Regions from separate parts of the Homo sapiens genome. Here region 1 is linked to region 2. Evidence: fine-mapped expression QTL. A gene starts in region 2. The other region holds a variant in brackets. All regions are shown on one strand. Distances are between the middles of the regions. Region 1 overlaps DPP8 (dipeptidyl peptidase 8). Region 2 holds the start of IGDCC4 (immunoglobulin superfamily DCC subclass member 4).

The links. PIP is the estimated chance that this variant, and not a neighbour inherited with it, causes the effect.
Region 1: its variant is the best candidate, but not a certain one, in a credible set for the expression of IGDCC4 in esophagus mucosa (GTEx, PIP 0.84).

What each region holds. Positions count from the first base shown.
Region 1 is chr15:65,459,681-65,464,680 of GRCh38, reverse strand. It overlaps DPP8 (dipeptidyl peptidase 8), which reads left to right. Exons shown (of 20, transcript NM_130434.5): 15 at 775-920. Among named protein-coding and RNA genes, the nearest start is that of IGDCC4, 39 kb to the right of the region's middle. The variant T/A (reference allele first, on the strand shown) is at 2,764.
Region 2 is chr15:65,420,469-65,425,910 of GRCh38, reverse strand. It overlaps IGDCC4 (immunoglobulin superfamily DCC subclass member 4), which reads left to right and starts at 2,964. Exons shown (of 20, transcript NM_020962.3): 1 at 2,964-3,118. The coding sequence starts at 3,049. RefSeq lists enhancers at 2,152-2,686, 3,662-3,931, 3,952-4,061.

The DNA.
Region 1 (5,000 bases), 39 kb before region 2:
TCTTGTTCTGTCGCTCAGGCTGGAGTGCAGTGGCGCAGTCACAGGGCACAGCTCAATGTAGCCTCAACCTCCTGGGCTCAGTCAATCTTCCTGCCTCAGCCTCCTGAGTAGCTGGGACTACAGGAGCACACCTCCATGCCTGGGTAATTTTTGTATTTTTTTGTAGAGACAGGGTTTTGCCATGCCACCCAGGCTGGTCACAAACTCTTGGGCTCAAGCAATCCACCCACCTCAGCCTCCCAAAATGCTAGGATTGTAGGTGTGAGCCACCGTGCCTGGCCTAGTTTTGTTTTTTTTAAATTATTTATTTATTTTTTTGAGATGGAGTCTCGCTCTGTCACCCAGGCTGGAGTGCAGTGGCGTGATCTCAGCTCACTGCAAGCTCCACCTCCCGGGTTCACACCCTTCTCCTGCCTCAGCCTCCCGAGTAGCTGGGGCTACAGGCGCCTGCCACCATGCCCAGCTAATTTTTTGTATTTTTAGTAGAGGCGGGGTTTCACCGTGTTAGCCAGGATGGTCTCAAACTCCTGACCTTGTGATCCACCTGCCTCGGCCTCCCAAAGTGCTGGGATTACAGGCATGAGCCACTGCGCCCGGCCTAGTTTTGTTTTTAAAGATGAATATACTCTTGCTTAAATTCTAGCTTATCATCTGAAAGAGGGGTGGTCAGTTTGTGTTGGCGGGGCTGACTTTTAATATCTTGTTTCTTGTTCCCAGATTGTAGCACTCCCATAAGAACTCTTTTGTAGACTCTGTTATGTTACCTATTCACAGGTCCTCTTCCTGACTATACTCCTCCAGAAATTTTCTCTTTTGAAAGTACTACTGGATTTACATTGTATGGGATGCTCTACAAGCCTCATGATCTACAGCCTGGAAAGAAATATCCTACTGTGCTGTTCATATATGGTGGTCCTCAGGTGGGCATATTTATATACATATATACATACACCCATATGCATATGTATTTTAGATCTTTTGTTTTTTAAATGTCTAGTCAGTTTAAGATTTTGAGCATTGTTGGGCATTTGCTTTTAATGACTCCGTCTTATATTCCAATTATTCAGTTTAGGGGGTCAGGAAACTGGTTTTTGTTGGAGGTTTAATTTGTAAATCACTGAGTCTTTTTTTTTTTTTTGAGATGGAGTTTTGCTCTTGTTGCCCAGGCTGAAGTACAATGGCGCAATGTCGGCTCACTGCAACCTCCGCCTCCCAGGTTCAAGTGATTCTTCTGCCTCAGCCTCCCAAGTAGCTGGGATTACAGGCATACATCACCATGCCCAGCTAATTTTTAAAATATTTTTAGTAGACATGGGATTTCACCATGTTGGTCAGGCTGGTCTCCAACTCCTGACCTCAAGTGACCCACCCGCCTCAGGCTCCCAAAGTGTTGGGATTACAGGCGTGAGCCACCGTGCCCTGCCACTAAGGCAGTTCCTTAATTTGCAGTGTGGACTATAGTTCTGTGAGGAGTGCGGTGTTCATGTCAGTAGGTAAATATGTTGCTTTCTATGTAGAGAAACTTGTTTGGGAAATAAAATGAAATAATTAAATGTCTTGGTAAATCAAAAGAGTCTTAACAGATATTTTTAGAAAGCTTTGGTAGCCTAGTGAATTCTCCCTCTTCATTCTAAAGCTGTGTCTCTCAAGCAAATTAAAATATTTTTATCAGCTAGTTAAGGCAACTGCTATACTACTATTTAGCACTGTAAGAAGTTTATACCTTGATTTTCCTTATTCTGGATTAAGTATTAGCCAATGACTGTTAAGTAAATGCTTTGACTATTGGAGTGAAATATTTTGGCCAGGCGCAGTGGCTCACGCCTGTAATCCCAGCACTTTGGGAGGCCGAGGTGGGCAGATCACAAGGTCAGGAGATCGAGACCATCCTGGCCAACAATGATGAAACCCTATCGCTACTAAAAATATAAAAATTAGCTGGGCGTGGTAGTGCGTGCCTAAAATCCCAGCTACTTGGGAGGCTGAGGCAGGAGAATCGCTTGAACCAGGGAGTCAGAGGTTGCGGTGAGCCGAGATAGTGCCACTGTACTCCAGCCTGGTGACAGAGCGAGACTCTGTCCAAAATATATATATTTTGGATGGGTGTATTGGTTAATTGCTAAATTTTAAAATTGTTTATTCTTGATTATATATCCTACACTGAGCCTTGGAAGAAATTAAAATATAATTACAGTCTTTTCATAATGCAATCCTTAGATTCAGTAATACCCTTTAATAATTATACCCAGTTATTTAGTATCTGGAAATGTATCTACATACCAAATTGTACACAAAAAAAGTAAAATAACTACATAAACCATAAAATCTCTAAATCACTTTGCCATCAAGTGTGTTTACAAACAAAATATGATTGACATTTGTATTTTCATCTACACAAGTCATGAAAGAGTTAGCCGGGCGCTGTGGCTCAAGCCTGTAATCCCAGCACTTTGGGAGGCTGAGGCAGCAGGATCACCTGAGGTCAGGAGTTCAAGACCAGCCTGGCCAACATGGCGAAACCTTGTCTCTACTAAAAATACAAAAATTAGTCGGGCGCAGTGGCAGACACCTGTAATCCCAGCTACTAGGGAGACTGAGGCAGGAGAATTGCTCGAACCTGGGAGGTGGAGGTTGCAGTGAGCTGAGATTGTGCCACTACACTGCAGCCCAGGCAACAGAGTAAGACCCTGTCTCAAAAAAGAAAGAAAGGAAGTTAAATTTTAGACTTCTGGTTAAAGCTTGAAGTCAAATATTTGTAAACTT[T/A]AAAAAAAAAAAAACGGTCGGCTGTGCGCGATGGCTCAAGCCTGTAATCCCAGCACTTTGGGAGGCCAAGGCAGGCGGATCATGAGGTCAGAGGTTCAAGACCAGCCTGGCCAACATAGTGGAACCCTGTGTCTACTAAAAATACAAACATTAGCCAGTGGTGGCAAGTGCCTATAGTCCCAGCTACTTGGGAGGCTAAGGCAGGAGAATCGTTTGAACCCAGGTGCTGGAGGGTTGCAGTGAGCCAAGATCGTACCACTGCACTCCGGCCTGGACAACACAGCGAGACTCTGTCTCAAAAAAAAAAAAGGCTTAATAGAAAGCAACTCAAGAGAAAAATCATAGGACACTCTCAAGCTTTATACATTTGTTAAATTATTTTGATGGTAAGACTAAATAAGAAGATTTTCCCCTCCCAGTGAAGAAATGATACAGTATATAGGATTGTTAAAAGACATTCTAAAAACTAGATTTTAAAGATTAGGCTGGGTGTAGTGGCTCATAACTGTAATCTCAGCAATTTGGGAGGGAGGATCACTTGAGCCTAGGAGTTGGGAGACAAGCCTGAGCAACAAAGTGAGACCCCGTCTCTACAGAAAAATAAAGTTAGCTAGGCGTGGTGGCTCATGCCTGCAGTCCCATCTACTCAAGAGGCTGAGGCAGGAGGATCCCCTGAGCCCAGGAGTTCGAGGTTGCAGTGAGTCATAATCATGCCGCTATACTCCAGCCTGGGTGACAGAGCAAGATCCTGTCTCAAGAAAAAGATTTAAAGGATTCCTTATATGAGTAATTAAGTTTAAAGAGGCTTAGCCACATGAAAAGATGCTCAATATGACTAGTCATTAGGGAAATGCAAATCAAAGCCACTGTGAGATACCAGTTCACACCCATTGGATTGGCTGTTATCAAAAAGAGGAAAATATTAAGTGCTGTACAAGATGTAGAGGAATTGGAACCCTGCCTGGTTCATTGCTGGTGAGAATATAAAATGTTATAGCTGCTGTGGAAAACAGTATGGCATTTCCTCAAAATGTCAAACATAGAATTACTATATGAGCCAGAAATTCCACTTCTTGGTATATACCCAGAAGAATTGAAAATATGGACAGGAACAGATACTTATACAGCCATAGCCATAGCAGCATTATGCACAATAGCCAAAAGGCAGTGCACGTGTCCATCAACAGATGAATGGATAAACAAAATGTGGTCTATACATACAACGGAATATTATTTTATTCAGCCTTAAAAAGGAGGATGTTCTGACATATAGTATAACACTGATGAACCTAGAGGGCATTATGCTAAGTGAAATAATTATTGCCAGACACAAAAGGACAAATATTATTCCACCTGTATGAGGTACCTATAATAGGCAAATTCATAGGGATAGAAAGTAGAATAGAAGTTGTCAGGGACTGGATGGAAGGAGGATGGGGAGTGTTTGAGTGCTTTGTTTGTTTGATTCTTTGTTTTTGAGACAGTCTCGCTCTGTCTTCCAGGCTATAATGCAGAGGCATGATCTCAGCTCACTGCCTCCTCCACCTCCTGGGTTCAAGCGATTCTCCTGCTTCAGCGTCCCTAGTAGCTGGGATTACAGGCGTGCACCACCATGCCTGGCTAATTTTTTGTATTTTTAGTAGAGACAGGGTTTCACCATGTTAGCCAGGCTGGTCTCGAACTCCTGACCTCAAATGATCCACCCGCGTCAGCCTCCCATAGTGCTGGTATTACAGACGTAACCCACCATGCCTGTCTGGAAGTTATTAATGGGTACAGAATTTCTGTTTGGGTGATGAAAAAGTTCTGGAAATGGATAGTGGTGATGGTTACACAGCAGCATGAATATATTTAATGTCATTGAATTGTATGCTTAAAATGGTTGAAATGGTAAATTTTATATATATTTTACCATAATTTAAAAAATGTTAGCCAATTCAATTAAAACAATTTTTTTTTTTTTGAGATGGAGTCTCGCTGTGTTGCCTAGGCTGGGGCGCAGTGGCACGATCTCGGCTCACTGCAACCTCCACCTCCCAGGTTCAAGCAATTCTTTTGCCTCAGCCTCTTGAGTAGTTGGGACTACAGGTGCGCAGCACCATACCTGGCTAATTTTTATATTTTTAGTAGAGATGGGGTTTCACCATGTTGGCCAAGATGGTCTCGAACTCCTGACCTCAGGTGATCTACCCACCTCGGCCTCCCAAAGTGCTGGGATTACAGGCGTGAGCCACTGC
Region 2 (5,442 bases):
TGTGGGCAGGGACTTGTATTTTTTATCCAGGTCCCCTGGCACCTACACAGTGTGAGATACTGATTTAGGTGCTTAGCATTCAGCAGTGAACCTAGCAAACAAAAATCCCTGTCCTCATGAAGCACACATTGTGATTGTGAGGGGTGGGGGAACAGATCGAAAATAAGTAAAATGTAGAGCATATTAGTAAGTTACAAGTGTTGGCCGGGCGCAGTGGCTCATGCCTGTAATCCCAGCACTTTGGAAGGCCGAGGCAGGTGGATCACCTGAGGTCAGGAGTTCAAGACTAGCTTGGCCAACATGGTGAAACCCCGTCTCTACTAAAAATACAAAAAATTAGTCGGGCATGGTGGCAGGCACCTGTAGTCACAGCTACTCGGGAGGCTGAGGCAGGAGAATCTCTTGAAACCAGGAGGCGGAGGTTGCACTGCGCTGAGATCGTGTCACTGCACTCCAGCCTGGGCGACAGAGCAAGACTCTATCTCAAAAAAAAAAAGAAAGAAAAAAAGAAAGTGACAAGTGTTGGCCAGGCGTGCTGGCTCACGCCTGTAATCCCAACACTTTGGGATCCAAGGCAGGTGGATCACTTGAGGTCAGGAGTTCGAGACCAGCCTGACCAAATGATGAAACCCCGTCTCTATTAAAAGTACAAAAAGTTAGCTGGGCATGTAGTCCTAGCTACTTGAGAGGCTGAGACCCAAGAATCACTTGAACCCAGGAGGCGGAGGTTGCAGTGAGCCACTGCCCTCCAGCCTGGGGGACAGAGTAAGACTCTGTCTCAAAAAAAAAAAAAAAAGAAGAGAAAAAGAAAGAAAATAAAATAAAAAAGAAAGTGACAGTTAAAGACAAGAATAGACAGCAGGGAAGGAGGATAGGAAGAGTAGGGGGTGAGGCTGTGAGAAAGCCTTTATGGTATCCAGTATGAGGGAACAGATCTCTAGACTTGCACTGGCCGGACAAAGGTCTTGAGGCTGGAGGGGAGGAGGCTGCCCGCGATCAAGTTACAGCAAGGAGGATGGTGTGGCTGGAGAGGTGGTGAGCACAGGGGGTGGTGTCGAAGGGGAGGTCAGAGAGGTAGAGCAAGCCTACAGATCAGATAGGCCTTGTGGGTCACAATAAGGACTTTGGCTTTTGCTCTGACATAGGAGCCGCTGGTGGGTTTCTAGCAGAGAAGTGGCATGATCTCATTTTAACAGGAGCACTCTGGCTGCTGTATTGAGAAAACACTCAAGGAGGACAAGGACAGAAAAAGATCAGTGAGGAGTTTGCTGTGACAATCCAGGTGAGAGGCGACGGGTCTTGGACCAAGGCCACAGTGAGAAAGTGGAGGGTGAAGCATCTGAACATGAAGAGTAGGAGATGACTCTACATTTTTTTTTAATAGAAATGGGGGTCTCGCTATGCTGGCCAGGTTGGTCTTGAACTCCTGGCCTCAAGCGATCCTCCCACCTCGGCCTCCCAAAGTGCTGGGATTACAGGCGTAAGCCACCAAGCCTGGCCTCTACATTTTTGACCTGGGCAACAGGAAAGGAACTGAGATGAGGAAGACTGTGGGAGGAGAAAGATTGATAGAAAAGATCAGGATGAGTTTGTCTACTAGACAGCTAAAGGAACTGGGGCCTGGATGGCTGGATACAGAAGTCCAGGGTTCAGGAAAGATGGTCTAGGCTGAAAGTATACATTTGGGCATCATTAGCATAAAGATGCTCTTTAAAGCCTTGAGGACCAGATGAGATCACTAAGGGAAGCAAGTGTTTCAAGGAAGAGGGAGTGATTCACTAAGTCAAATGCTGCTGATAGGGCAAGTGAAGATGGGGCGTGGCAATGAATGAATAAACGCCAGGCCTGTTAGATATGCAAAGCGCCAGTGATTATTGAGGGTTAACTGACAACAGACAGGTGTAGAGACAAGATGGCTCTAAGTCACAGGAACACTTAGAGACACAGGGAAGGGAAGAACTATGGCATCTTGGAGTTGGAAAGGACCTTAACTAGGTCATTGAATCTGTACTCTTTTCCCCACCCTAGCCTGACAATTGAACCCTTGGCTGTAGAACAAGAAATATTTGCGGGATACTGAGGCAAACAGTCTGGCTAGGTAGGTTAGAGAAAGTACCGTTGAAGAATGAGAAAAAGGGTACTTCAGTAAATGCTGGACAGCAGAGGCAGGGTGAGGGAGTGGAGATGACCTTCCGAAGTCAGAAAACCAAGGTTCAGGTCCTGTATCTGCTGCTCCCTAGCCTCCTGTCCTTGGGCAAGTCACTTCACCTTCTCCAGCCTCAGTTTCCCCATGCGGCGACATCTGAATATGGTAGTGCTTGAAGGTAGTGTAAAAGTGTCCTGCCTGTGTTAGTTACTGCCAGAGCAAGGGAAGGAGGCCAAGAGAAGCCCTTGGTTTGGGATGGCAGATAGGACTATCAAGATCTCCGCAGGTGGGCTGGCGCAACGTGTGGAGAAGCGAACCAGCATTCAGGCCAGGACCTGGGCTGGAATGGACTGGGCTCGGGTGGCAAGGGGGCCATCTGGACAAAGACCGTGGCCCTGAATCTGCCTCCCCTGAGCCTGGAACGGAGGTGGAGACCCCGAGGCAGCAACAGGGAGAAGAAATAGAGACGCTGAGGCAGAGAGACCAGAAGACTCAGAGACGGGGAGACTAAGAGACAGACCCAGCAACAGGCGGCCTCACGGGGGCCCGCGGCGACCCGGAGAGGGCGAGGCACCGGGACACAGACCCGGGCCGAGAGGAGCCCCCGCGAGGCGCAGGGCCGTGGCGCGCGGGCGCAGGGTCCCCGGCGGGGCCAGGGTGGCCACACTCGCCGGGCGCCCCCTCCCGGGCCGCTCGCCCAAGATGGCGATGGAGGGGCGGGTGAGGCGGCAGCGGCCCTGGCCCCCGCGCCGGCCCCAGCTCGGGCCCGGGCCCCCGAGGCCGCGCCCCCGCCCGCGGCGCCGCGCCTCCCCGGGCCACTGACGCCCGGCGCGCTCTCCCCCCGCGGCGGCGGCCGAAGCACGGGGAGGCGGCGGCGGCGGCGGCGGCCCGAGCCCAGCCCCATGGCGCGGGGGGACGCCGGCCGCGGCCGCGGGCTCCTCGCGTTGACCTTCTGCCTGTTGGCCGCGCGCGGTAAGGGCGGGCGCCCGGAGAGGCAGGAGCGACTGCGGAGTGCTGGTGCGCCCGCGCCCTGGTCTGCATCGGGCTGCGGGGCTGGCTCAAGCCGGAGTCCCGAGCAAGTGCGGGGGCTGCGCGTCCAGGTGCCCGCGATGCCTGCGCGGGGGTCTGCGAGCTGCGGCCGGGGGGCGTTTGTGGGGCGTGCTTGTCCGCAGTGGGTGTGTGCCTTTGGTTCGCAGAGTCTGGAGTCGTGTGTGTGTGTGTGTGTGTGTGTGTGTGTGTGTGTGTTGGGAGTGCTCCTGTCGTGTCCGCAGTGCGTGCCATGGTCGCGGCGTGGCATCGGCGGGGCGGGTAGCTGCGGTGTCGGTGGCTTTCGCGGGGCGGGCTCTGCCTTGCCTGCGCGTGTCTTGGGTTGAGAGTGTGTGTAAAAGAGGAGGGAACTGGGGTTGTGTCTGCACCTCCATTTGGGTCGGGTGCGTGTGCAATTGTGTTTATGGGGCTGAGCTAATATTTGGCCTTGGCATTTGGGAAGTGTCCTTGCCCATAGTGGGGGACAGAGCGATGGATCCCGTTTGACTGGGGGTGGTGGTGATAAAACAACACTCAACTTTGCCCAGTGGGTGTGGTCCCTGGGGCCGGTTAGAGAGGGGTAGAGGGAGGTGTTGCTCCCCAAAACCTGTGGCCAGCAGTGGACTGGGGGAGGGGGCAGGAAACCATTTGCTTTCGTGGACATGTCCAGCGCTTGTTCTCACGATGGGACGCGTGTCACCCCGGCCCCACCCCCCAGGGACCGACCAGGGAAGCGTGGACGAGGTCAGCAGGGCCTCATCCAGTCCGCAGCCCAGTGCGGAGTGGGTACGGGGTAAGTCAGAGTTGTCCAAGCTGGAGAAAGGGCTGGGGAGGGGATAGCGAAGTCCCCAAGGGTGTGTGTCTAGGGCTGCGGCTTCCACCCACAGCTCTGTCGCTTCCTGTCCGGTGTGCGTTTGGGGGCGGCTCATGGGGAGTGTAGGTGGCAGGGCTGGGAGGGGGATGGGCTGGCCGCTTTGTTCGCCTAGTTCTTGCCTTCCCCGCGGAGGGGGGAGCTGAGGATGTGTCCGGGGAGAGTCGGGGAGGGACTTGGAGGTGGGGGTGGGGAGGGGGATTTCTCTCCAGCTGCTGCGGCTTTCCAGAGAGACTCAGCCAGGCCACGTGGGAGGGAGGCGGGGGGAAGGAGCCTCCGCCTGGCCAGCCCCAGGCCCATCTCCAGGAAAACCAAACAGCGGGTGGGAAAGTGCCGGGAACTCCTCGGACCCCTTCTGTCCCTACAAAGACACGCCCCTTTCCAGCCCCAACAGCGGATTAAGCTGGAGGCCGCCGCGAGGCTGGGTCTCGGCTGCTGGGCCAGAGGAGCTGGAGGCCCTGGCTTGTCAGGTGAAAGGGGCGGGGAAGTGTCAGAGAGAGGTCTGTCTTCCCAGAGCTCAGGGGATTAAGGAATAGTTCCCCTGCCCCACCTTCCGCTATTCCTAGGGCTCCTGGAACGAGCTCAGGGTCACCCAGCTAAACGGCATCAGGGCTGGGAACCGCACCGGCGCATTATTCAATACCTTTAGGACCTGCCGCGAGGGACCCAGCTTCCCTGGCCTCTCCCTGCTCCCGAACGCACAAAGCAGGCGAGGGACCGAGTTGCGGCGTCTCTTGGTTGCAGTGTGAGTGGCTACAACAGCTTGCCCTGGTCCTCCAAATCTCAGCAGGCCGGGGGACACTCCAGTCGAGTCATGACTAGCCACCCTGATCTGTACTGAGGTCATTCATTCGTTCAACAAATATTTATGGAGCACCTTTTATAGGCTAGCTTGTGCCTAGTGCCTAGAATATAGTAAATAAGGAGGCAGACCTGATCCCTGGTGCAAAGCTTTCAGTCTGGTGGAGGGGGAAACTGACAAGTCCCCTGAAGTGCTGGGGAAGACGCAGGAAGGAGGGGCTCCTACACCGATCTGGGAAGGTCAGCAAAAGCTTCCTGAAGAAAGTGATGAGTAGTAGAGCTCGACATGGAGTTAGCCCTGTAGAAGGAGAATGATGATGGGGACAGTTTTCCAGAGAACAGCATGTGCAAAGTTCAGAGGTGATTTAGTTGAGATCATTGGATTAAACTAAATCTAGCTGGAGTTTAGGGACAAGGGGTGGATGGGGGGCAGGTGAGGGAAGCATGGAAAGGGGTCAGGGAGTATCAAGACAGGAGGCTGAAGAGGGGAGCTAGATCCAGCTCACAAAGGGCTTTACAGGGCCCACCAAGGTTTCTGGCCTGAGAGTCCCCATGAGCCCTTGACAGGATTTAAAATCAGCTTTGCATCATCTCATTC